Regions from separate parts of the Homo sapiens genome. Here all the other regions are linked to region 5. The links come from fine-mapping of genetic effects on gene expression. A gene starts in region 5. Each other region holds a variant in brackets. All regions are shown on one strand. Distances are from middle to middle.

Region 1 (5,105 bases), 62 kb before region 5:
ATGTTGCTCAGGCTGGTCTTGAACTCAAGCCATCCTGGCCTCAGAGTGGCCTGGCCTCAAGCCATCCTCCCACTCAGCCTCCTGAAGTGCTAGGATTACAGGTGTGAGCCACTGTGCCTGGCCTGTGCTGTCATTTAAGGGAAGTCAGGCCCTTTGTTTTCAGTGTCAAACTCTCGGCCAGGCACAGTGGCTCATGCCTGTAATCCCAGCACTTTGGGAAGCCGGGGCGGGTGGATCGCCTGAGGTCAGGATTAACCTCAGGTGATGAAACCCTGTCTCTACTAAAAATACAACGTGATGAAACCCTGTCTCTATTAAAAATAGCCTGGCCAACGTGATGAAACCCTGTCTCTACTAAAAATACAAAAAATTAGCTGGGTGTGGTGGTGGGCGCCTGTAATCTCAGCTACTTGGGAGGCTGAAGCAGGAGAACCACTTGAACCCAGGAGATGGAGTGAGCCGAGATCATGCCATTGCACTCCAGCCTGGGAAACAAGAGTGAAACTCTGTCTCAAACAAACAATAATAATAGGCCGGGTGCAGTGGCTCAAGCGTGTAATCCCAGGAGGCCGAGGCAGACGGATCACGAGGTCAAGAGATCGAGACCATTCTGGCCAACATGGTGAAACCCCATCTCTACCAAAAATACAAAAATTAGCTGGGCATGGTGGCACATGCCTGTAACCCCAGCTACTGGGGAGGCTGAGGCAGAAGAATCACTTGAACCCGGGAGGTGGAGGTTGCAATGAGCCCAGATCGCACCACTGCACTCCAGCCTGGTGACAGAGCGAGACTCCATCTCAAAAAAAATAAAAATAAAAATAAAAATAATAATAATAATAATAAACAAATGTCAAACTCTCATAACAATGAATTACTAGATACTACTACTTAAACATTTAATAGGAACCAAAAACTAACCTCTCCCAAATATTTATTTTCCACTTCAGCAAATGGCCCCACCATCAACGTAGCTGTATAAACCTGAAACATAAGTCACCCTTGATTGGCCTTCTCATGCTCCTAAATCTAATTCATTAAGAAGTCTTGGCCGGGCGCAGTGGCTCATGCCTGTAATCCCAGCACTTTGGGAGGCCAAGGTGGGCGGATCACTTGAGGTCAAGGGTTCCAGACCAGCCTGGGCAGTATGGTGAAACTCCACCTCTACTAAATATACAAAAATTAGCCTGGTGTGGTGGCACACTGCTGTAATCCCAGCTGCCTGGGAGGCTGAAACACAAGAATTGCTTGAACCCGGGAGGCAGAGGCTGTAGTGAGCTGAGATTGCACCATCATACTCCAGCCTGGGTGATAGAGTGAGACTATGTCTCAAAAAAAAAAAAAAAAAGTTTTGTCAGTTTCTTACTGATATATGCTCATCTGAGTCTTGTCAATATTGATGGCCTTCTGTCTAGTCTGGTTTACTTTCTTGCCTTCCTTCATTTCCTAAATAGAAGCAAAATGTGCTCTAAAATGTAAATTGAGGCAGGGAAGGGCAGTGGCTCATGCCTGTAATCCAGCACTTTGGGAGGCCAAGGCAGGAGGATCATTTGAGGCTAGGAGTTGAAGACCAGCCCAGGCAACATAGTGACACCCTAGTTCTACAAAAAAAAAAGAAAGAAAAGAAAATGTCCCGATGTGGGGGTGCAAACCTGTGGCTCCAGCTATGCAGGAGGCCGAGGTGGGAGGATCACTTGAACCCAGGGGTTTGAGGCTATAGTCAATTAATTATGATTGTGCCACTGCACTCCAGCTTTGGCAAGGGAGCAAGATTGTCTCTTTAAAAAAAAAAAAAAAAGTAATCCAGATGATGACATTCCTCTCATTAAAATCTCAAAGGTTTCTGAGTCCCCACCTTAGTCTGTGAATAAGCTTGCTCCTGTCTTTATCTCAACTCCCCCTGTGCCACTCTCTCCCCTGCTCCTTAGGCTACATCCACAAAGGTCTGCTTTAAGCTCCTCTAACATGTCCTTTTCTTTGCTGCACCAGGCACATGCCATTCTCACTTCCCTCCACTATCATTCTTTAGGTCTCAGCCAAAAACAAACAAACAACAACAACAAAAACAAACAAACAAAAAGTCTCCTGTTTAAAGTAGGTCTCCCCTAACAGCATGGGCAACATAGTGAGACCCCATCTCTACAAAACAATACAAAAATTAGCCAGGCATGGTGGTGCACGTTTGTATTCGCAGCTACTCAGGAGGCTAAGGCAGGAGGTCGAGGCTACAGGGAGCTGTGACTGTGCCATTGCACTCCAGCCTGGATGACAGAGTAAGACCTTGTCTCAAAAAAAGGAGCTCTCCCCTTATTCTATACTTCATTCCGTTTGTTTCCTTCATAATTTATAACAATTTGCTTACTTGCTTCTTGTTTCTTTCCCGTTACAATATAAGCTCCATGAGGGCAGGGGCCACAAAAGCAGGTGTAAATGGGAGGAGGTGTTACCTTGTTGGAAATGTCTGAGAAGTACTAGCTGTGGGTCTCTTTTAGTGTAAGATCTGTCATCCCAACACTCGTCACCACTCTACCTCCAATACCACTCTTCCTCCAGATGGAGCACTTCTATCATTTTGAAAGGAACTAAAGACAAGATTTCACTGGGAAATTACATTAATTCCAACTGGTATAGATGGAATTGTGTCCTCCACCAAATCCATATGGTGAAGCCCTAACGCCAAGGTGATGCTATGGTGGAGATGAAGCCTTTGGAAGACAATGAGGTTTAGATGAGGTCATGAGGGTAGCCCTCATAAGATGAATCCCCTTATAAGAAGCACAAGAAGCTGGGCACAGTGGCTCATGCCTGTAATCTCAGCACTCTGGGAGGCTGAGGTGGGTGGATCACCTGAGGTCAGGAGTTCAAGACCAGCCTGGCCAACATGGTGAAACTCCGTCTCTACTAAAAATACAAAAATTAGCCAGGCATGGTGGCACACACCTATAATTCCAGCTACTCGGGAGGCTGAGGCAGGAGAATTGCTCCAACCCAGGAGGCAGAGGTTGCAGTGAACCAAGATCGCACCACTGCACTCCAACCTGGGTGACAGAGTGA[CA/C]AAAAAAAAAAAAGAAGCACAAGAGATGCCAGAGCTCACTCTCTGCTACATGAAAACACACTGAGAAGGTGGCAGTCTGCAAACCAGGAGCTGGGAAGAGAATCCTCACTAGAAGCCAACGATGCCAGATTCTCATCTTGAATTTCCAGCCTCTAGAACTGTGAGAAATACATTTCTGCTGTTTAAGCTACCCAGTCTATGGTATTTTGTATGGCACCCTGAGCTGACTAAGACACCAACCAATAGGAGAATGCTCTAATCTCATAACCACATAACCAAATACACATGTAAAAAGACATCTGATGCAGCAGTATTCTCTATCAAGACTCTCCACTCCCAACCAAAAGTGTTCCACTCCTTGCTTGATGCTCTTACTTCTCCAACAGCTACACTTTTGAAGTCTGAACACTGTTAAAGCAACTATTACCTTCCTGTACATACTCTGTTAGAAGACAACCTCACAACTGACAGTGCCCTCCCCTCAGTCACCCTCCAATCTACCTACCTCGATGCACTAAAATGAGTGAGTCAGGTACACCAAGACTTATAAACAACTATGTTTTATTCAGAAGGACTAATTGACATTTCAGTTAGGAAGTGATTTTGATTAGGACTCATGATAGCATACAGAAACATTGTCTTAGGGCATCTTACATGGGGTTTCTGCCTAAATGAGAATCTCATGGGACTTTTTTTTTTTTAATTTATTATTTTATTTTGAGACAGTCTCACTCCGCCACCCAGGCTGGGGTGCTGTGGCGCAATCTTGGCTCACTGCAACCTCTGCCTCCTGGGCTCAAGTGATTCTCATGCTTCAACCTCCTGAGTAGCTGAGGTTACAGGCACATGCCACCATGCCCTGCTAATTTTTTGTCTTTTTAGTAGAGATGGGGTTTCGCTATGTTGGCCAGGCTCGTCTGGAACTCCTGGCCTCAAGTGATCCTCTCACCTCAGCCTCTCGAAGTGCCAGGATTGTAAGCGAGAGCCACCAAGCCCAGGCTATTTTTTGAGACAGGGTCTCCCTCTTTCACTCAGGCTAGAGTGCAGTGGAGCAATCATCACTCACTGTAGCCTTGAACTCCTGGGCTCAAGCAATCCTCCCACCTCAACCTCTCAAGTAGCTAGGACTACAGGCACATGCCATCATGCCCGGCTCATTTTTAATTGTTTTGTAGAGACAGGGTCTCACTATGTTACCCAGGCTGGTCTCAAATTCCTGGCCTCAAGAGATCCTCCTGTCTCAGCCTCCTAAAGTGCTGGGATTAGAGGAGTGAGCCACTGTGCCCAGCCAGGACTCTTTATTAAACAATTGTTTTTTATAAGTAGACATTTCAAAAAGCTCAGGTTTTCCTCCTTCTAAAACTAGCCTCTAATTGCAGATTAGGATGAGGGAGTAACTAGATTCTTTGAGACATTTTGTTAGAAAATTACTTTAAACATTCAGGAGTTTGTATGTTTTGTCAAAGGGAATATTCCAAATGCTCTATTTTTAAAAATTCATATTCCATAGAGAATGTAAATGATTGAAGCAGTTATTTCTCCAATATTTCTACTTTGGGAATTTCAAAGCATAACCTTTTCTTTGGCTTCCCTCCCTCCCTTCCTGCCTTCCTCTTTTCTTCCCTTCCTCTCTTTCTCTTTCTTTGTTTCTTTTTTTGAGACACAGTCTCACTCTCGCCTAGGCGTCTGGGCTTATATCTGTGGGCTCAAGCAATCCTCCTGTCTCACCCTCCCAAGTATCTGGGACTATGGAGGCATGCCACCATGCCTGGCTAATTTTTTGTTTTTATTTTTTGTAGAGATGGGGGTCTCACCATGTTGCCCAGGTGAGTCTCAAACTCCTGGCCTCAAGGGATCCTTCTGCCTTGGCCTCCTAAAGTGCTGGGGTTATAGGCGTGAGCCACTTCGCCTAGCCACAAAGCAGTCTTTAAACTTGATGGTTTAAAAAAAAAAAGTCTTACTCCATATTACAGGGAGAAATAAGCACAGTAGTTGGCAGAGGCTATGAAGGTCCCCAAACCAGAGCTCCATTTTAACAAGAAAGAGCACC
Region 2 (5,105 bases), 85 kb before region 5:
TAAAATGAAGGTTTTATACTCATTAGGACATTTCCTGGCCTGCCTTCAAAATAACAAAGCCACTGGGCTTCTAAATTCAGTCTAAGTGCCATTACTGCACAAAAGTGAAGAAAGGAAGGGTGTCATTCCCATTGAGTTCCCATCAAGCACGACAGGACCAAATGTGCCCACATCAAGCGTAGATGAACATGTTACTTGAGCCTCTTCCCCTAGAGCCCTCTTCCCCTAGAGCCAGGAGTCACCCTCATGGGCTTCATTCCCCAAACACATCAAAGGCCTCCTAAATCGCACAGCAGATATGATCAATGGAACAAATTTCAAAACAAGGCACAAGCCCAAAAGGCAGCTGTGGCAAACTGAATAATCAGATAGACACCCTATACAACAGAACTAACATTCCCTAAAACTGCTAATAGGTTCAGCTGTTTCCCAAGGTTCCTATGAAATCAGAATAAAATTTCACATATGATGGTGGTATAATTACACGGCATTCTTGTTTACGTTTGCAAAGAAGCTGGTTAAACAGTGAAGCAGTTCCAAATCCTAGTTTGATTTCTATGCCACTTTCCCACAATTGTAGTGTCTATTTACACAGAACCCAGGACTACATAGAGCAGCTCAACTATTTGATAACAAGATAAAACAATCACCTGTTTTAATTGGGGATGCCTGTATTTTATGCACGATTTAAAAATGTATGTATATATTTTTTGAGACGGAGTTTCGCTCTTGTTGCCCAGGCTGGAGTGAAATGGCGCAATCTCGGCTCACCGCAGCCTCTGCCTCCCAGTTTCAACGGATTCTCCTGCCTCAGCCTCCCGAGTAGCTGGGATTACAGGCATGCACCACCAAGTGGCTAATTTTGTATTTTTAGTAAAGATGGGGTTTCTCCATGTTGGTCAGGCTGGTCTCGAACTCCCAACCTCAGGTGGTCCTCCCGTCTTGGCCCCCCAAAGTGCTGGGATTACAGGCATGAGCTACCGTGCCCGGCCTAAAAAATATTTTTATATCTCCATGCTATTATCATTTTTTAGTATTAGTTTATTGTTAAGGAGTTATAAATAATACTGTTTGATGGCCTATTATGTGCTAACTACTGAGTGCTACAAATTTTATATTTATTATCTAATTTAATCATTATAACCTTAAAATGCAGGTATTACTAGCCTCATTTTACAGATGAATAATGGTAGGTGAAGCTAATGCATAATGCTTACACTGAGCTAGACACTGTTCTAGGTACCTCTTGAAAACTAAAAAAGAAAAAAAAAAAGGCAAATTCCATGTTCTGAGTAATCAAGAAATCCAACCTAAAGGGTTATTTAATGAAAGAAGAGTTAATCCCTTGTCCTTGGAAGTTTAGGTTCAGATAAGTCCCTATTAAAAAAAAAAAAAAAGACATTTCAAGGCCTCCTAAAGGAGCTCTATATGGCTCACAAAGCCTTTTGGTCCCTGATCTGCATACTACACAGTTGGCTCTGAGTACAGGTGTCTTAGGCAATAATAGCCAAATGTCACAAGATGAGAAGCAGGTATATAATCCTACCATTTTCTCAATATCACTTACATTCTCAACAAATAGAACTGTTACTCTAGTCTTACACACTTCAGACTTTTGGGGAGAAACTGACTTATTTATTTTTATTTCCTTAAGAAAATGAAAGTGCTTTAAAACACTTTCAAATAAAATAATCAAACAAGATAGAACTTTTGAAAGAAAAAGTCAGAACCCTTTCTACCCCACGGAAAATGGCTATTTTCATGGCTGTTTTCAAAGTATAGTTTTTTTTAAAAAAAATAGAAACATCTCTTTCATACATATATAGAGTAAACATGTGTTAGGATATATTTAACTTATTAATAAGGGAGCAAGCAGGAAGTAATGCTAATTCAAAGGAGAATTTGAGGAAAAGAGCCATGCTAAAATAAGTTTGCTAACAGCTAGGCACAGTGGCATGTACCTGTAGTCCCCAGCTACTCAGGAGACTGAGGCGGGAGGATGGCTTAACCTCCTGCCTTAAGATAGGTTAAGTCTCCCCATCTTAACCACTCTGTGCAGACTCGCTTTCTCAGAGTGGGTCCAATATAAAGCATTCACTTCCAACTCCAGCTCCACAGGCAGTATACCAGTCCTTCACACACAAAACTGGCCTTGAGGGCAAAGTAATGCCAGATAGACCAGTTAACTAAAACCCTACCCCACAGATGCTGTTTTTTGTTTTGTTTTGTGGTAGTGAGGAGCCTCAAACTGGCGTGTGTATGGGGGGTGGGAAGGATGGATTTTGCTGATAAAACCAAAGCTGGGTCTTGGAAAGCTCTGACTAAGCATCTGGCTTGATAAAGCTGTCATCATGGTATTGTGTGAAGTGACTGACCTCAACAGCAGGAGTTCAGAGATCAGGATAATTTGGACAGATATTTCCCAGAATACCATATTACCATCATAATCAGAAAACCTAGAGGGCACTGGAGGATAGCGTGGCACATATAACTTTGAAGGAAACAGATTC[C/T]TTAAAGAAAAACTGCTGGTGTTATAATTTAACTGCTTACTCAAAACTATTTTGATTTTACAGGCAATACTTCGTAAGGGCAACAACAAAAGCATGTTTCATGGTTCTGTGGTGTGAGGAGGTAGGGATAAAAGGATAATTGAGAAAAACACTTCAAAATTCATGAGTATAAAGTCTGTCTTGACCATAAACACCTTGAAGACAACTATTTGGAATGGTCTCCAAAATACTGCAGCCCAAGGACCAAGGGGTTTCTATCTGGAACAGATACTAGTTTCTCTTCTGGTAATAAAAATATTTCCAACTTAACATCAATGTGGCCAATAATAATTACAAGTCATTGCATTTATATAAATGCCCATGAAGATACAAGTACATAATGCTTTAAAGAAAGAAATAGGAAGTAAATACAAAGTTACAGAACCTCTAAACTCCTGCTTCCTAAGACTTGGTTCTACCCAGGAGTGCTCTTTAATTGCAGTTCTAATCAGGGGTGTTGAAATTATCCATTTAGATTCTCCCCAGTAAGACTACACTATCCTAGAAGACAGGGACTATTTCTTATGAAAATGTTTGTTGAATTGAAGCCATCCACGGAAGCCAAATGGTTATAGATCTCTCAGGAGCTGAGATCAGGGTCGGCTCCAGCTACTTATAACATACCCTAGAGGCATCAGCCCACCTTTGGGTGGGGTTAAAGCCAAACATTTTTTTGGGTCTCCCCCTCTACCCACTCCATTTTTTTCTTCCTATTTTACTCCTCAATTGTAAAAAGGCCAGAAAAGTTACTGATTGACATCAACATTCACTGGTATTAGACAAAACTTGTCTGGATCTCAGGATTCAGGGTATACATTATTATTACAACTATATCCACATCTTTAAAAACATCATTCTATGGGTCATTTATGAAATATCCAAATAACAGGAACTTTTGTAATGGGCATGAGAAACTTTTAGATCTTATCTAACTATGCCACAGGCATGAACTAAAGGAAATTCTCTATTGGCATTGTTTTCACTTCTTAACAAAACCATATGAAAGACCACTTGATGAATAGGGCAGCACTTATCAGCTAAAAATGAACAATACAAAAGCCAGTAATAGTTCCTTGTTACCATTTCAAGTAGTCTTTTGATTCAATTTCTGAGGGAGGAGAGGAGGTCCAAAGTCTCAGTTTAATCTGATAATTTGTTAATTGCAGTTCTAATGGGGGTGGGGGGCATAGGGGGTACTCTTTCAAGTAGGGACTTTAAGAAGTGAAAACAATGTTACCAGTCATAAAGTTTCTAGCCTGGTGTCAAAACAGAAAAATCCTTGTCAGCCCTGAGAGTGAGCCAAACTGAAATATGGTAAAATCTTACTTATTCTCTCCCTGGGAGGACTAAAAGTTACCCAGATCTGTCCTATACAAATTTTCCCACTCTTCTCTTTAGCAGGAGGTAATGTGTATACACCTTAGAAAAGCATGTATTCTGGAAAAATCCCAGGGTCTGAACTTTCTAAATAAACAAGAAGGATTTCTTCCTTTTCTAAGGGAACCTACTGGCTCTGCTTTCATTCACATGTCCTGAGACCATCACAGGTCCAGGTTGTTACAGGACTGCAAAGGGCTACAGGAAACAAGGAAGAACCACCACCTCATGAAGAAGGTTAACCAGGAATAGGTCCATGGGTCAGGGAGGAGCTAATATAATAACTTAAAATATTCCCTTAAATAACATCTTAACTCCTTCTTAATCAAAAGCACATCACTTTAATAAGAACAAAGAGGCCGGGCACAGCAGCTCACGCCTGTAATCCCAGCACTTTGGGAGGTCGAGGCAGGCAGATGACCTGAGGTCGAGAGTTCAAGATCAGCCTGACCAACATGGAGAAACCCCGTCTCTACTAAAAACGAACAAACAAACGAACAAAAAAACAAAATGAGCTGGGTGTGGTGGCACATGCCTGTAATCCCAGCTACTCGGGAGGCTGAGACAGGAGAATTACTTGAACCCGGGATTCTCCGGTCTCAGCCTCCCGAGTAGCTGGGACTACAGACACGCATCACCACACCCAGTTAATTTTTGTATTTTAGCAGAGATGGGAGTGTTTCACCATGTTGGCCAGGCTGGTCTCGAACTCCTGACCTCGTGATCCACCCACCTCGGCCTTCCAAAGTACTGGGATTACAGGCGTGAGCCACCGCACCTGGCTTTTTTTTTTTTTGTGACAGAGTCTCTGTCTCTGTCACCCAGACTGGAGTGCAGTGGTGCAATTTCAGCTCCTGGGTTCAAGCGATTCTCCTGCCTCAGCCTCCTAAGTAGCTGGGACTACAGGCACATGATATCATACCCGCCTAATTTTCTATATTTTTAGTAGAGATGAGGTTTTGTCATGCTGGCCAGGCTGGTCTCAAACTCTTGACCGTGGGTGATCTGCCTGCCTCGGCCTCCCAAAGTGCTGGGATTACAGGTATAAACCACCGAACCCAGACTTTTTTTTTTTTTTAAGAGAGTATCACTCTGTTCCCCAGGCCGGAGTGCAGTGGCACTATCTCAGTTCAAGCCATTCTCGTGCCTCAGCTTCCTGAGTAGCTGAAATTATACATG
Region 3 (5,105 bases), 110 kb before region 5:
CTGCAGCCACGACCTCCTCAGGCTCAAGCAATCCTCCTGCCTCAGCCCCGAGGGGAGCTAGGACTACAGGTGCATATCAGCACGCCTGGCTAATTTTTTTTTTTTTTGTATTTTTGTTTGTTTGTTTGAGACAAAGTCTCGCTCTTGTGCCCCAGGCTGGAGTGCAATGGCGCGATCTTTGCTCACTGCAACCTCCATCTCCCAGGTTCAAGTGATTCTCCTGCCTCAGCCTCCCAAGTAGCTGGGATTACAGGCGCCTGCCACCACACCCAGCTAATTTTTGTATTTTTAGTAGAGACGGGGTTCTACCATGTTGGCCAGGCTGGTCTTGAACTCCTGACCTCGGGTGATCCGCCCGCCTTGGCCTCCCAAAGTGCTGGGATTACAGGCATTAGCCACCATGCCCGGACTTTTTCTTTTGTATTTTTTTAGAGGTACGGTTTTGCCTTGTTGCCCAGGCTTGTCTCAAACTCCTGGCCTCAAGTGATCTGCCTGCCTTGGCCTCTGAAAGTGCTGGGATTACAGTCATCAGTCACCATGCTCACCCTTCATTACCTTTTTTTTTTTTTTTTTTTTTAGTCTAGATGAATTTATTGCCATTCACATATTTCATAGAAAAAAAGATGTAGCAAATGGGTCAGGGTTGTACCAAAAAAATCCAGGTTTATAAGGTTGCTCTATTTACATCTGAGAGCAGGGCTGTCCTGGCATCAGGCACAGCAGCTGCAGTTGTCCGACGTCCCTTTGCAGATGCAGCCCTGGGCACACTTGGCACAGCCCACAGGGCAGCAGGAGCAGCAGCTCTTCTTGCAGGAGGTGCATGTGCACTCTTTTCATTTGCAGGAGCCGGCACAGGCGCAGGAACCATCAGGCGAGCAGGAGCAGTTGGGGTCCATTTAGAGGCAGGGAGAAGCAGGAGTTCCTGATCAAGAGGCAAACACTCAGCGGGACAGATGAAAAGCGTGCCTTAATTACCTCTTTAAAGGACCTATTTCCAAATATGGTCACATTGGGGGCTAGGGCTTCAATGTATGGATTTGGGTGGAGCAGGGCATAATTCAGTCCATAACAGGGTCCACAGACCTCATGTAAACACTGCTGCTGGGCAAAGGAGGCCAGCTGACTGTTGGGACCTGAAAGTGACATGGTTAGAACTGCGTTTCAGAAGGACGCTTGTGGACCGTGTTGGTCTATGAGTTCTGCTCTCCTGTGCCCCTCTGACCACTAAACTATGTGTCCCCCTAAGCCAGCTGCTTCTCCTTTCAGGGCCTCAAGCAAAACATGTAGAACATCTCCCTAAGGACTCTTCTAGTCTAGAGCCCTCTGATTTTTTTTTTTTTTTTTTTTGAGACAGAGCCTTGCTCTGTCGCCAGGCTGGAGTGCAGTGGCATGATCTTGGCTCACCGCAACTTCCACCTCCCAGGTTCAAGCAGGTCTCCTGCCTCAGCCTCCCAAGTAGCTGGGACTACAGGCGCATGCCACCACGCCTAGCTAATTTTTGTATTTTTAGTAGAGACAAGGTTTCACCATGTTGGCCAGGACGGTCTCAATCTCCTGACCTCGTGATCTGCCCGCCTCGGCCTCCCAAAGTGCTGGGATTACAGGCATGAGCCACTGTGCCCGGCCTAGAGCCCTGTGATTAATCCACTCATTTCTTCTTGGTTTGGTCTCCCCACAAATATTTATTAAAAACCTCTTGGACAAGGTCCCCACAAGACCTTGAGAGGACTCCACAAGGCAGGGACACAGTCACCAACTTGACAGAGTGGATGGGAGGCCCAGGTGGGCAGACACACAGGCCGAGCTGGGGTGAGAATGAGGCATGGAGAGCCCTGCCTGAGGATCCTGGGTAGGTGTGGGGCGGGAGGTCAGCTAGGACACCAGGCTTAAAATCCTCTTGGCTCCTAGAATAACACCCACCCCTCCCTCAGCATGGCCTGGCACCAGGAGTGCTCCACTCCCACCTGGAATGCTTGCTCTGCCTCCTAGCAGTCCTTCCACCAGGCTCACTGGCTTTAGG[G/C]ATTCTCCAAGCTGGAGCCACAGCCAGTTAATCAAGTCAGGTCAAGGGCACCAGCCTCGCCACCAAGCTCAGTGGTCAATTCTCCATCCTCAGATCACCTGACCCTGGGATCATTCCCAGGTGACTGGATGGATGGTGGTGCCCCTAACTGTGGGGGAAGCATGGAGGAAGCGCACAGGGTCAGAGGAGGAGCCCCTGGGGAGTGAGGGAGGGTGGGGGGCTGCCCAGAGAGGACACACTCACAGCAGATGTTGGAATGTAAAGCGCAGGTGAGCGGCCTGAGTGAAGCTGGACATTACTGACGGCGGAGGGACCAAGCCTGAAGCAATGGGTGTAGACAGATGAGAGGTCCGGATGCTGTGGACAGACAGCAGAGCCTTGGATGCCACCTGGGCAATGACAACGACGAGGTCAGACCCAGGAGAGGCAGAAGAACCGGAAACCCCCTCCTCCAGCCCGCCCTGAGGCTCATGTTTGGTGTGCAGGGAGGCTTGCCCAAATCCCAGGGAAGCATGGCTGGGGAGCGATGCTACTCCTTGGACGCCATCTCTTGTGGGCCTTCTGCTGCAGAGAGCACTCTGCTCTGTGCCTCTGCCGTGGCCCCAGCCATGCGGTCCTAAGTGTTGTCTTCCCACTACGGATTCCACTCGGGAGCTCCTTTCCCATTACATCTGAGGGGATGACCTCTGGCCATCAAGTCCACATGGGTCACCCTCCATTGTCCTCAGCCCTGACCACTGGCTGCTGCGGCTTATAGGCTTATCAAGACCCTGCATTACTGACTGCCAGAAGCGAGGCCTAGACCCCACCCATCTGGGATGCCCCAGATAGGTTCTATCCTCATCTGCCCCCCTGCCACAGGTTAGCAGGACGAGGCCAAGTGCCATGATCTGAACGTCCTGCCAGATTCACATGTTGAAGTTTAATCACCACTGTGACAGTATTAACAGGTGGGGCCTTCAGGGAATGACTAAGTCATGAGGGCAGAGCCCTCACGATGGGATTAGTGATGTTATGGAAAGGCGTGAGGGGCCAGTTCATCCCATCCACGGTGTGAAGACACAGCCTTCACGATGGAGCAGCAACAAGGCAATGTCTTGGAAGTGGAGACTGGGCCCTCACCAGACACCAAGCTTGATGGTGCCTTGAGCTTGGACTTCTAAGCCTCCAGAAATGTGGGAAATACATTTCTGTTGCTTATAAATCACTCAGTCTGTGGTATGGTATATAGCAGCACAAGGGAACTAAGACACCAAAGCAAAGAGAAGGCTAACTTCTTGGCTTCTGGCTTCCCGAACAACTGTCCCAGCCCTGGGTGGCTGCACTGGTTGCAGATGGTTCTACTGACTCCATCCTCTTTGGTATCTTTTTAGTATGATACCTGGATTGTCTTTTGACCTTAGAATCTCAGGATTTGTCATTTTTGTTTAGCCCATGTGACACCTCCCTGGTTTGTGATTAGGCTGTAAGCTCCTTCATGGGTGGGCCTCTTTTGTGTCTTGTGTGTGTCCCAGTGCCTCGGGGGTCACAGATGCTCAGGGAATGCTTGCTGAGAGTGAATAGTCTCCCAGTCAGTTCCAGGTGTTCTAGGCCTTGTCAACGGGCCACAGCCCATGTCCTCGGGCAGGAGCATCCTCCCTCTCCCCAGGCTTCTGCTGGAAAGGAGCCCTCCTTCTCTTCCTTGCAGTAGGTGGGCAGACAGGCTCCCTGGTGGGTGCAGAACACACTCTGCTAGGACTTTTTGGCATTTACTTAAGACATGGGCTTGGCTTTGTGCATTCCGACAGGCTCTGGACCCAGAGCCCAGCCCCATGAGAAAGATGGTAATTTTCCCACAGCTGAGGGCTGGGGAAGGAAAGGCAGGTAGGCCAGCTGGAGGATGGTACTTGAAACAAGGCAGGGGCCAGGGACGGGTGCCCCCCAGGCTTAACTGACAGAGGGAGGGGAGAAACAGGCAAGCATTTTCTTACTCCTGCCCATCTGCTTTCTTTCTCAAGACTGCCTCCGACAGATCGCCCAAGCACACTTGAAGCCTTTCACAGGGTGCCCTCAGGTGGCCTTTTGGGGAATCACACCCATCCAATGGATTAAACGATTCTTGGCTGGTTCCAGCTAAGTTGCTAACCTGTGAGGCTGGCTGCCATCATTGCCATTTTACTGATAAAATTGAGGCTCAGTGAGGCAGGATGACTTGCTCCAGCTCAAAGTGACAGTCAGCTCCTGAACCTAGGTCTGCCCTGTCCTACTGCCTCTAAGTCCCTTCTGAGTCCACAGAACTACGTCTCAAAAAATTGAAATGGCATCAAGCGTTTCCTTGGTTCCAATCTTGATCTGATGCATCTCTGTTATTTCCTCCCATGCAGGTGGTCAGACCCTGTTTGAACACTTCCAGCCGTGGGCAAATCATCACCTCACACAGCATCCACTGACATGCTGGCAGTGTTTGTGGGAAGAGAAGTAGTAAAGCCACTGAGACCAGAAGGTGGAACTTAGCTGGGAGTCTCTCCTTGGCCTGGGGGAGGTGAAAAGGCACAGAGCACTAAGACCCAGTCATGTGCGGCAGCACCACGCAGAGGCCAGCCTGCAGGATTTTCACGGGCAAAATTTTGGTGGATGCTTCCTCTCCTGCCTGGACGTGGGGGTGCTCAAAGCCTACCACTTCTAGGAACCTTTCTCAGGCCTCACGGGAGGAGTAATGAAGGCAAAACCTTGGGCTGAGGTGCTGATTCCTGCACTGTCTCCCCTTCCCCAGGCAGATTTTCAATTTACACCCGAATGTGCATAGGCCTCTGGCCCTTTATTTATTTGTTGGGAGATGGAGTCTCGCTTTGTTGCCCAGGCTGGAGTGCAGTGGTGCAATCTTGGCTCAATGCAGCCTCCACCTGGGTTCAAGTGATTCTCCTGCCTCAGCCTCCTGAGTAGCTAGGATTACAGGCGTGCACCACCATGCCTGGCTAATTTTTGTATCTGTAGTAGAGAAGGGGTTTTGCCATGTTGGTCAGGCTGGTCTTGAACTCCTGACCTCAAGGGATCCACCTGCCTTGGGCTCCCAAAGTATTGGGATTACGGGCGTGAGCCACCATGC
Region 4 (5,105 bases), 50 kb before region 5:
TGCTGGGATTACAGGCGTGAGCCACCATGCCCGGCCACACTCAACTATTTTAAGCACCCTAGCCTACTGAACTTTACTTATTGCCTATTTTTTATTTAAGACACCTATAGATTGATCTGAGAGGGGCAGGGGCAGGGAGGAAGACCCAACAAGTTCAAATGAACCTTTTAGGAAAAAGAATTTGAGCAACTCCCAGTGCTCCAGTAGTAATTTCCCTTTTCACAAGTTCTCAACCTAAATAGAAAATTTTCCTTTCAGAACATCTAGACCACTAGAATGTGCTATACAGTTACAGCTCACAGTACAGTATGAATACTGGGCTAACAAATAATACTGAGAGTGTCTATTCCAACTGGTAAATCTCTTCAAGTTTTCTGAAATGGGCTTAGTTTACGACACATACTAATCATCCCTATTAAAATACAAGTCAAATAGTCACAATTTAATTACACACAGAGCAAGCAAACAGTTCTTCACAGTTCTGAATACTTCTCCACTATTCTATAATCATCTCAAGTGCAAGATCTTCCAGTAGTTTCATCTTTTCCATGGTGTATGGAGCATTCAATAAATGCTCACTAAATGAATGATATGCTTTTGCATTTTCAGACGTCAAATTCTCTTTTGTTTCTTCACCTGTCTCCAGGGAAAGATCCTGAGGCATTTATCCCATGCTTAAAGAGACTATGCTGTCATGTGTCTCACACCTACAAGCCAGAACATATTTGATAAGGTCTCTAATTACGTAACTATGAAGAAGCAAGGGCGGTTATCCAGTCTGGGCCTGCTGGCTCCTGCAGGAGCATGATGAGCATTGTGTATGAAACTACCTGACTATATGTGACACCTACAACACTGAAACATTTTTCAATGCATGATGTTGGGGACTCAGGAGACCCCCTACATCAATCTGAAAAGGACATTCTACATTAATTAAAGCTTGCATGATTAGCTATGCACACATTCACCAAAAAGCTAGAATTGGCCTTTTTTTTTTTTTTTTTTTTTTTGAGACAGAGTGTTGTTCTGTCACCCAGGCTAGAGTGCAGTGGCATAATCTTGGCTCACTGCAACCTCTGCCTCCCAGGTTCAAGCGATTCTCCTGCCTCAGCCTCCCGAGTAGCTGGATTACAGGCGTGCGCCCACCACGCCCAGCTAATTTTTGTATGTTTAGTGGAGATAGGGTTTCACGATGTTGGCCAGGCTGGTCTCCAACTCCTGGCCTGAAGTGATCCACCTGCCTTGGCCTCCCAAAGTGTTGGGATTACAGGGGTGAGCCTCTGCACCTGGCCCTAGAATTGGCCTTTTTACTTCACCTGACTTTTTTGTCCCAGACTTTTCCATAGGAAAGATACTATACTGTGCATACCTTTGTTGCACTTAAGTCCACAAAAATTATTAGGTATCAAAATATATTGATACCAAATTTATTAGATATCAACTATGAACAAGGTGTTGTGAAACAGTACAAGAAGGCTGGGTGCGGTGGCTCACACCTGCAATCCCAGCACTTTGGGAGGCTGAGATGGGCAGATTTCTTGAGCCCAGGAGTTTGAGACCAGACTGGGCAATAGGGCGAAACCCCGTCTCTACTAAAACTACAAAAATTAGCTGCGCGTGGTGGCAGGCACCTGTAATCCCAGCTACTTGGGAGGCTGAGGCAAGAGAATAGCTTAAATCTGGGAGGCAGAGGCTGCAGTGAGCCAAGACCGCGCCACTGCACTCCAGCCTGGGTGCTTGGGTGACAGAGTGAGACCCCATCTCAAAAAAAAAAAAACAACAAAAAAAAAAGAAACGGTACAAGAATGTCTAAGACATGGAGCCTGTCTATCTTCAAGTAGACGACAATCTTGTGGGGGAGACATCATCATCATCCTACTTTTTTACAGCTTAAAATATATACATATATTTTAATTTTAAATAGAGATGTTGCCCAAATTGGTCTCAAACACCTGGGCTCAAGTCATTCTCCTGCCTC[G/A]ACTTTAAAACATATTTTTACAAGTGTTTTCTTAAATGCATTTCTCAGCAATCTATGGCACAAACAGAATTTGTCATATCCATTTTTCAGACAAAGAAACTGTGGGTCAGACAAGCCAAGAAACTTGCTTCCCACATCCAAAGGCCTTTCCTTTTTAGCATGCAGCCTCTCTCACACAGATAATAATGGCAAAAGACAGATGGTAATAAATAATGGAGGAAGGTATGAATAGTATATTAGGGAAGCAGAGAGGAAGAAAAGAGCTTAATATCTACGGCGAGGAATCTGAGAGAAGTTGGTAAAAAATGTGGCTTTTGATTTTATCTTTGAGATGACTTTTAGAGAACAGGACACTTTCAGTCCATTAAGAAGGGCAGGCCGGGTGCGGTAGCTCAACGCCTGTAATCTAGGCACTTAGCAAGACTGAGGTAGTGTATTAGTCCATTTTCACACTGCTATAAAGAACTATCCAAGACTGGGTAATTTATAAAGGAAAGAGGTTTAACTGACTCACAGTTCCACATGGCTGGAGAGGCCTCAGGAAACTTACATTTATGGTAGAAGGCAAAGGAGAATCAAGCAACTTCTTACAAAGCAGCAGGAGAAAGAGCACAGGGGAAACTGCCACCTTTTTTTCTTTTTTGAAACGGAGTCTCGCTCTGTTGCCCAGGCTGTAGTGCAGTGGTGCAATCTCAGCTCACTGCAACCTGCACCACAGGGGTTCAAGCAACTCTCCTGCCTCAGCCTCCCAAGTAGCTGGGACTATAGGCACCCGCCACCAGGCCCGGCTAATTTTTGTATTTTTAGTAGAGACGGGGTTTCACCATGTTGGCCAGGCTGGTTTCAAACTCCTGACCTCAAGTGATCCGCCCTCCTCAGCCTCCCAAAGTGCTGGGATTACAGGCGTAAGCCACTGCGGCCAGCCGAAACCGCCACTTTTAAACCATCAGATCTCATGAAAATTCTTTCACTATAACAAGAACAGCATGGAGGAAACCGCCCCCATGATCCAGTCTCCTCCCACCAGGTCACTCCCTTGACACATGGGGATTACCACTGGAGGAGATGAGATTTGGGTGGGGACACAGAGCCAAACCATATCTGGCGGGCACACTGCTTGAGCTCAGGGGTTCGAGACCAGTCTGGACAACATGGCAAAACACAATTAAAAATTTCAAAAACTAATTCAAAAAAGAAAAAAAGGGAAGGGCAAATAAGGAAGTTTAAGACATAACAAGGAGGTTCATGTGGCTGAAGTCTGGCTACCTAAGGATGCAGCAGTGAGTCAGGCTGAAAAGGCAAGCCAGGTCCTTGAAAGGCAGGCAGAATGAAAACTCCTACATGCAGCACACTAACGCTGAAGCTTGCTGACGGAAGAATGCAAGGCTAGTTGCATGTTTCAGACTTGCAGTATTTCCCAACAGGAGCTCTTATCATTTGGGGCAGGATAATCTTTTTATCTGTAGGACTGTCCTATGCACTGCAGGATGCTGCACATCCCTGCCCCTTGCCTACTTCATGTTTATACTGCTTTTCAGTGATGACAGTAAGCAATGACTTTACAGATTTCTTACAGATTTCCGAATGTCAGAGGAGGAGGAGATACTGTCCCCAGTTTTAGAGGTGGTTATTAATGGTCTTTAGTCCAGGTTCACATGAAGAGAGAAGAAAGGCAAGAAGATAATTTTTTTTTTTTTTTTGAGACAGAGTTTCGCTCTTGTTGCCTAGGCTGGAGTACAGTGGCATGATCTCGACTCACTGCAACCTCCGCCTCCCGGGTTCAAGTGATTCTCCTGCCTCAGCCTCCTGAGTAGCTGGGATTACAGGTGCCTGCCACCATACCTGGCTAATTGTTTATATTTTTATTTTATTTATTTTTGAGACGGAGTCTCACTCTGTCACCGAGGCTAGAGTGCAGTGGCGTGATCTCGGCTCACTGCCAGCTCCACCCCCTGGATTCACGCCATTCTCCTGCTTCAGCCTCCCCAGTAGCTGCGACTACAGGCGCCCGCCACCATGCCCGGGTAATTTTTTATATATATATTTTTTTAAGAGACGGGGTTTCACCGTGTTAGCCAAGATGGAATTGTTCATATTTTTAGCAGAGACGGGGTTGTACCATGTTGGCTATGCTGTTCTCAAACTCCTGACCTCAGGTGATCCGCCCGCCTTGGCCTCCCAAAGTGCTGGGATTAGAGGCGTGAGCCACAGCACCCAGCCAAATTTGTATTTTTTTTTTTTTTTTTTCTGAGATGGAGTTTCACTCTTGTTGCCCAGGCTGGAGTGCAATGGTGCAATCTCGGCTCACTGCAACCTCCGCCTCCCAGGTTCAAGCAGTTCTCCTGTCTCAGCCTCCCAAATAGCTGGGATTACTGGCATGTGCCACCATGGCTGGTTAATTTTTTTTTCTATTTTTAGTGGACAGGGTTTCACCATGTTGGCCAGGCTGGTCTCAAACTCCTGACCTCAGGTGATCAGCCAACTTCAGCCTCCCAAAGTGCTGGGATTACAAGCGTGAGCCACTGAACCCAGCCCAAATTTGAATTTTATAATCGACACTTGTCACATTCAAAATTTTTGTAGGAGTCCATTTAAATTTTGTGTTTGCTGAACATGTATTATGTTAAATAGCCATTATATGACCTAGTACTAAAATCTGACTACTCCCTAAGCAAAATCTTAGAAATACCCTCATGTACAGCTTTCCTTTGTTTTCCTCTTAGATAATGTCAGATGTTTAAAACGCTAAGCATAACACCTTGACCACTCTGGAGTAGAGAAAAATCCAATGAAAAAGCAGAGGGCTGGGCGCGGTGGCTCACACCTGTAATCCCAGCACTTTGGGAGGCCGAGGTGGGTGGATCACCTGAGGTCAGGAGTTCGAGACCAGCCTGGCCAACATGGCGAAACCCTATCTCTACTAAAAATACAAAAATTAGCCAGGTGTGGTGGCACACACCAGTAGTCCCAGCTACTCAGGAGGCTGAGGCAGGAGAATCATTTGAACCCAAGAGGTGGAGGTTGCGGTGAGCCAAGATTGCACCACTGCAATCCACCCTGGGCAACAGAGACTCTGTCTCAAAAAAAAGAAAAAGCAGAATATAAAATTCTTAACAAACTGCCTACA
Region 5 (5,105 bases):
CCAGCCTGGGAAACAAGAGCAAAACTATGTCTCAAAAAACAAACAAAAAGAGTTAATTCATTGACTAAAACAATTCTGAAATCACAAAGATAATTACGTATTTGTTCATCTTTGAGATAGCTTCTCCCTGGGACCTCAGTGTTCTCATAAAACTCAGACGTTTTGTTAGCATTTTCTTTGCTTGCTCTCCATAATAGGTAGGACTCACCCTGCTCTGAATCTTACTCAGGGTTTAAACCACATAAAGCTGTTATTAAAGACCCCTCTAGAAATCAGACAAGAAGAAGCATCCTAAGCTATTTTTTTTCTGATCCTGTTCTTTTTGTAACTAAGGTAAGGAATTGCAAAGGTCAAAATCTGGAGAGCAAATGATGTCATGGATGTCATGAAGTTGCATCAATACCTGATGATGATTTAGCATAACAGTGCAACATATTATGCCAAGAAGCATAATGATGAGCCACCAGGATGTTTTACTGCATTAATTTCATGACTCTTTATTAGCAAATTGATATGCAAAGTAGCTCTCCAATTTTCTACCACAGAGAAGCTGCTGGTTCAGATTTACATCTTTAGCAAAGACACTAAGAAAATCGACAAATTTCTATGGAAAAGTCTTTGATTTAAAAATAGAAAAGGAGGCTGGGCACGGTGGCTCAAGCCTGGGGTGGGGCAGGGTATCGCTTGAGACCAGGAGTTTGAGATCAGCCTGGGCAACATCGGTGAAACCCCGTCTCTACTAAAATTACAAAAAAAAAAAAAAAAAAAAAAAAATTAGCGGGCGTGGTGGCGCACACCTGTAATCCCAGCTACTCAGGAAGCTGAGGCAGGAGAATCGCTTAAACCCAGGGGATGGAGATTGCAGAGAGCCGAGACTGTGCTACTGCACTCCAGCCTGGATGACAGAGTGAGAAACTGCAAAAAAAAAAAAAAAAAGAAAGAAAGAAAGAAAGAAAGAAAGAAAGAAAGAAAATGGTCAAATAATAACCTAAACAGTTGTCATTTTAACAATGAAAAGCTTTTTAAGATACGCAACATGCCTATGGATCAATGTAGATTGAATCATCTATTTATACTGGCTTGTCAAAAGCAAACAGTTACTGGGTATAAAATGACAACATACAATAGAAAAGACACCCAATCAGATTACACACGTGAATACACTCAAAGTTAGCAATTTAACACAGCATCACTAATGGCCATAAGATATACAGACTTAATTCTAAATATTCAATTCTAAATGATGGTACTTCCCCCAAATTTTCCTTGCCTCTTTAAATCCATGATGTCATCATTCTTAAGCAGAAGTAAAGCCAATTTGTTACAAAAGATATTTTGGTGTGTCCAAGCAAAAGCAATCGCCTCAACAATTCTGCATAGCACAAGTTCAGTGAAGCCATCATTCCTCAAGAAAGAGACCACAAGGCTTCAAACCGACTTCCCTACATGACAGAAACACAATCGAAGTCTCCCAATTAGCATTTAAACAGCAATAAAAGTTGTTCTCAAAAAGGAACAACATAGTTTCAACGTCGGGGCCAGCAACTGCCAGCAAGTAAAACTGGTAATGTGTCAGAATCTTCATCTAGATCGATCAGAATCCCACCACAGAAAAATCCAGACTCTGGCAATTAAGAAATGAGGCTTTTATTTTCCTAACAGAAATCGGGAGATTTAACAGACAAAGCAATTGGTTATTCTGAATCTTAACAAACCGAAGGTTTCAAACGAACTCAGCGCTGAAGTTACTCTGCAGCGACCATCAAGATCTCACAATCGTTTTCTCTTCGCTTACAAATTCGTTCCCACCCTCCACCGTTCCCTTTGCACACACAATTCTCGCCAAGAGAAGCCTTCCACAGTCACAGCATGGATTGCTGTCTCAAGCAAGGAGATCCGCAGTTCCCATTTCTCTAAGGGAACACTCAACAAGCTAGGGGATAGGAAAGGCCTTTTGTGTTTTATTTAACGTAAACCAATTCCAAAATTATCCCTTTGCAGCTGCAGGTTCAGAGATGCTAGCCCCCAGCCGCAGCCCCAATTTTGATGGGCACCCGACCCCCGACTCCTCTCTCGCAAAGGAGTGAAATGTTCGGAGGAGCGATGAAAGATTACCTGACACCCTAAAGCCATCCTTGCCCGGGCCACACACCCCTTCACTGCCCGGGTGAGGGGACGAGAACCACCCTGCTGAGGAGAGGGGGTGGGTTCGCTCCCAACCCAAGGGCTGGCTGGAAAGGAGCTGTCCTCCTCCTCGCCTCACTCGAGGACGGCGATAGCAAGTCACCCTGCCCAACCAGGACCGACCCCCGCGTGGGATACGGGGCCTGCGTCAGACCCCGGGCGCCCGCTGCCCCTTGCCAGTCCCGGGCATAAAGGGCAGAAGGCGCCGGCTCCCCTCTGCGGCCCGGGGAGGAGGAGAGGCCTCACCTGGCCCAGCCCGCTCCACGCTCTCGGGTTCGCTCCGCTGGCGACGGTAATGAGGGAGCCAGGGACAGGGCCAGAGCAGAGGCGCTCTGCCTCAGGCCGCGACAGCCGTGCTCGGGGCTCCTCACAGCTGGCGGGACCCCGAGCCGCCCGGAGCCGCCATCTTCCTCCACTCAAACGCCGCCGCCGCCGCAGCTGCTGCTGCTCAGGCCGGGAGAAGACAGCGCAGAGCGCGCATGCGCCGGGGCGGGCGCGGCGGACGCGCGCGCACTCACGTCAGCGCGGCGGGATGGCGAGGGGCGGCCAGGGGGCGGCGCAGTGTTGAGAAAGGCCGTGGTCACAGGCCGAGGTTCTGTGGAGGGTGGAATGCGCTCGGGGGAGCTAGGCCTCCGCACCCGCCTTCGCCGCGTCTCTAGCGTCGACCTGATAGCCGCACCCACCCTCCGCTGCACTGTCTGGGGCAACTGGGTGGTTTTCCCGGTGGTTTGAGACTAACATTTAGCCAGGAATTAACTCACTTCTACCCCGAGGGCCCGATGAGCAGAGAGGGCTGTGGCGGATGTGAGTGCTCTTGGATATCGCCAAGGGGAGGGAAACTGTGCTTGAGGTGTGCAGGAGAAGTCTTCCCTTAACCGTAGCCTCGTAGCAACCACTGTGAGTTCTTACTAGCTCCACTTTTCAGATGAGGAAACTGAGGCACAGAAAACGATCACTTATTTGCCCGGAGTCACACACCTATCAGTGGAGGTGGGGCGGCGCGGGAAAGAGGATTTAAACTCAGGCTTGTCTGGTTCCCAAGCTCCTTTACTTCCTACTAGCTAGGTTATAGGATCCAGCAAAGTCCCCCTTCTCAAGGGAGCAACCTGGTGTGTAGGTGAGAACCTTCATGAGCCCAGCCCTACAGCATGTGGTCTAAGGAAATGCCAGATACAGAGTCAAAGGCTTCAGTCTAAACTCTGTAAGCCAAAAAAACAAAACAAAACAAAACAAAAAACTAAGCCCCCACCCCCCCCCCAACACCAAACCATCTGAACGGACTTCCTCCTAGGCCAGGGCAGTCTAAAATGTAACCAACCTGAGAGACTGGTTCAGGCCATGACGGGAAGCAGGACATGAGACATGCCTCATTACATCCTTCAGCATTGACATCAACACAACAGACCTTAAGACTGGTAAGAAACATTTACAATCTGTTCTCTCTGGAGCCCACCTGCCACTTGGAGGCTTCACGTGCGTGATAAAACTTTGGTGTCCACAATCCCTTATCATAACCCAGACATTCATTTCTATTGATAATAACTTTTTTTTTTTTGAGACAGGGTCTAACTCTGTTGCCCAGGCTGGAGTCCAGTGATGAGTTCTTGGTTCGCTGCAACCTCTGTCTTTCAGGCTCAAGCTATCCTCCTACCTTAGCCTCCTGAGTAACTGGGACTACAGGCGGGCACCACCATGCCTGGCTAATTTTTCCATTTTTTTTGTAGACACAGGGTTTCGCCATGTTGTCCACTCTCATCTCAAACTCCTGAGCTCAAGTAATCCACTTGCCTCGGCCTCCCAAAATGCTTGGATTACAGGCGTGTGCCACCGCACCAGGCCTATTGATAATAACTATTTCAACTCATTGCCAATCAGAAAATGTTTAAATCTGCCTATAATGTGGAAGCCCCCACTTCAAGTTTCCGGTCTTTCTGCACCGAACCAATGTAGTTTTTATTTATTTATTTACTTATTTTTATTTATTTGTTTATTTTTTTGAGACTGAGTCTTGCTCTGTCGCCCAGACTAGAGTGCAGTGGCACCATCTCCGCTCACTGCAACTTCCGCCTCCTGGGTTCAACCGATTCTCCTGCCTCAGCCTCCCGAGTAGCTGGGATTACAGGCGCCCGCCACCGTGCCCAGCTAATTTTTGTATTTTCAGTAGAAAATACAAAATTCAGTAGAAAATACGGGGTTTCACCATCTTGGACAGGCTGGTCTCAAACTCCTGAACTCGTGATCCACTCACCTCGGCCTTCCAAAGTTCTGGGATTACAGGTGTGAGCCACGGCGCCTGGCCTTTTTATGTATTTATTGAGACAGGGTCTCACTCTTCGCCCAGGCTGGAGTGCAGTGGTGTGATCTCCACTCACTGCAACCTCTGCCTCCCAGGTCCAAACGATTCTCGTGCCTCAACCTCCTGAGTAGCTGGGATTACAGACATGTGCCACCACACCCAGCTAATTTTTGTATTTTTAGTAAAGACGGGGTTTCACCATGTTGGCCAGGCTGGTCTCGAACTCTTGCCTCAGTTGATCCACCCGCCTCGGCCTCCCAAAGTGCTGGGATTACAGGCATACGCCCCTGCACCTGGCCCTGTATTAATATATCTTAAATGTATTTGATTGATGTCTCATGTCTCTCTAAAATGTATAAAACCAAGCTGCTTCCCAACCACCTTGGGCACATGTTCTCAGGATCTCCCAAGGGCTGTGTCATGGGCCATGGTCACTCATATTTGGCTTAGAATAAATCTCTTCAAATATTTTACAAAGTTTCCTCCTAGGAAATCTCATGGGGCATAGGGCTGGGCCAGAAGCCAAGTTCCCCTCAAGTTGGAGGGCAAGGCCTCTTTGAGCAGACTTGGGTCACCCTTACCCATAGAGAGCTGTATGAGCCAGAGGCGGTGGTGCATACTTGTC

The links. PIP is the estimated chance that this variant, and not a neighbour inherited with it, causes the effect.
Region 1: its variant is the best candidate, but not a certain one, in a credible set for the expression of FBXO42 in whole blood (INTERVAL, PIP 0.61).
Region 2: its variant is the best candidate, but not a certain one, in a credible set for the expression of FBXO42 in lung (TOPMed, PIP 0.71).
Region 3: its variant is the best candidate, but not a certain one, in a credible set for the expression of FBXO42 in whole blood (TOPMed, PIP 0.53).
Region 4: its variant is the best candidate, but not a certain one, in a credible set for the expression of FBXO42 in whole blood (INTERVAL, PIP 0.84).

Annotation. Positions count from the first base shown.
Region 1 is chr1:16,287,627-16,292,731 of GRCh38, forward strand. The region is part of intron 4 of FBXO42 (F-box protein 42); the gene reads right to left. Among named protein-coding and RNA genes, the nearest start is that of CPLANE2, 53 kb to the left of the region's middle. The variant CA/C (reference allele first, on the strand shown) is at 3,055.
Region 2 is chr1:16,264,399-16,269,503 of GRCh38, forward strand. All of the region lies in intron 4 of FBXO42 (F-box protein 42), which reads right to left. Among named protein-coding and RNA genes, the nearest start is that of CPLANE2, 30 kb to the left of the region's middle. The variant C/T (reference allele first, on the strand shown) is at 2,511.
Region 3 is chr1:16,240,503-16,245,607 of GRCh38, forward strand. It overlaps the pseudogene MT1XP1. Among named protein-coding and RNA genes, the nearest start is that of CPLANE2, 5.9 kb to the left of the region's middle. The variant G/C (reference allele first, on the strand shown) is at 2,021.
Region 4 is chr1:16,299,907-16,305,011 of GRCh38, forward strand. The region is part of intron 3 of FBXO42 (F-box protein 42); the gene reads right to left. Among named protein-coding and RNA genes, the nearest start is that of FBXO42, 50 kb to the right of the region's middle. The variant G/A (reference allele first, on the strand shown) is at 1,979.
Region 5 is chr1:16,349,825-16,354,929 of GRCh38, forward strand. It overlaps FBXO42 (F-box protein 42), which reads right to left and starts at 2,656. Exons shown (of 10, transcript NM_018994.3): 1 at 2,431-2,656. RefSeq lists an enhancer at 1,921-2,695.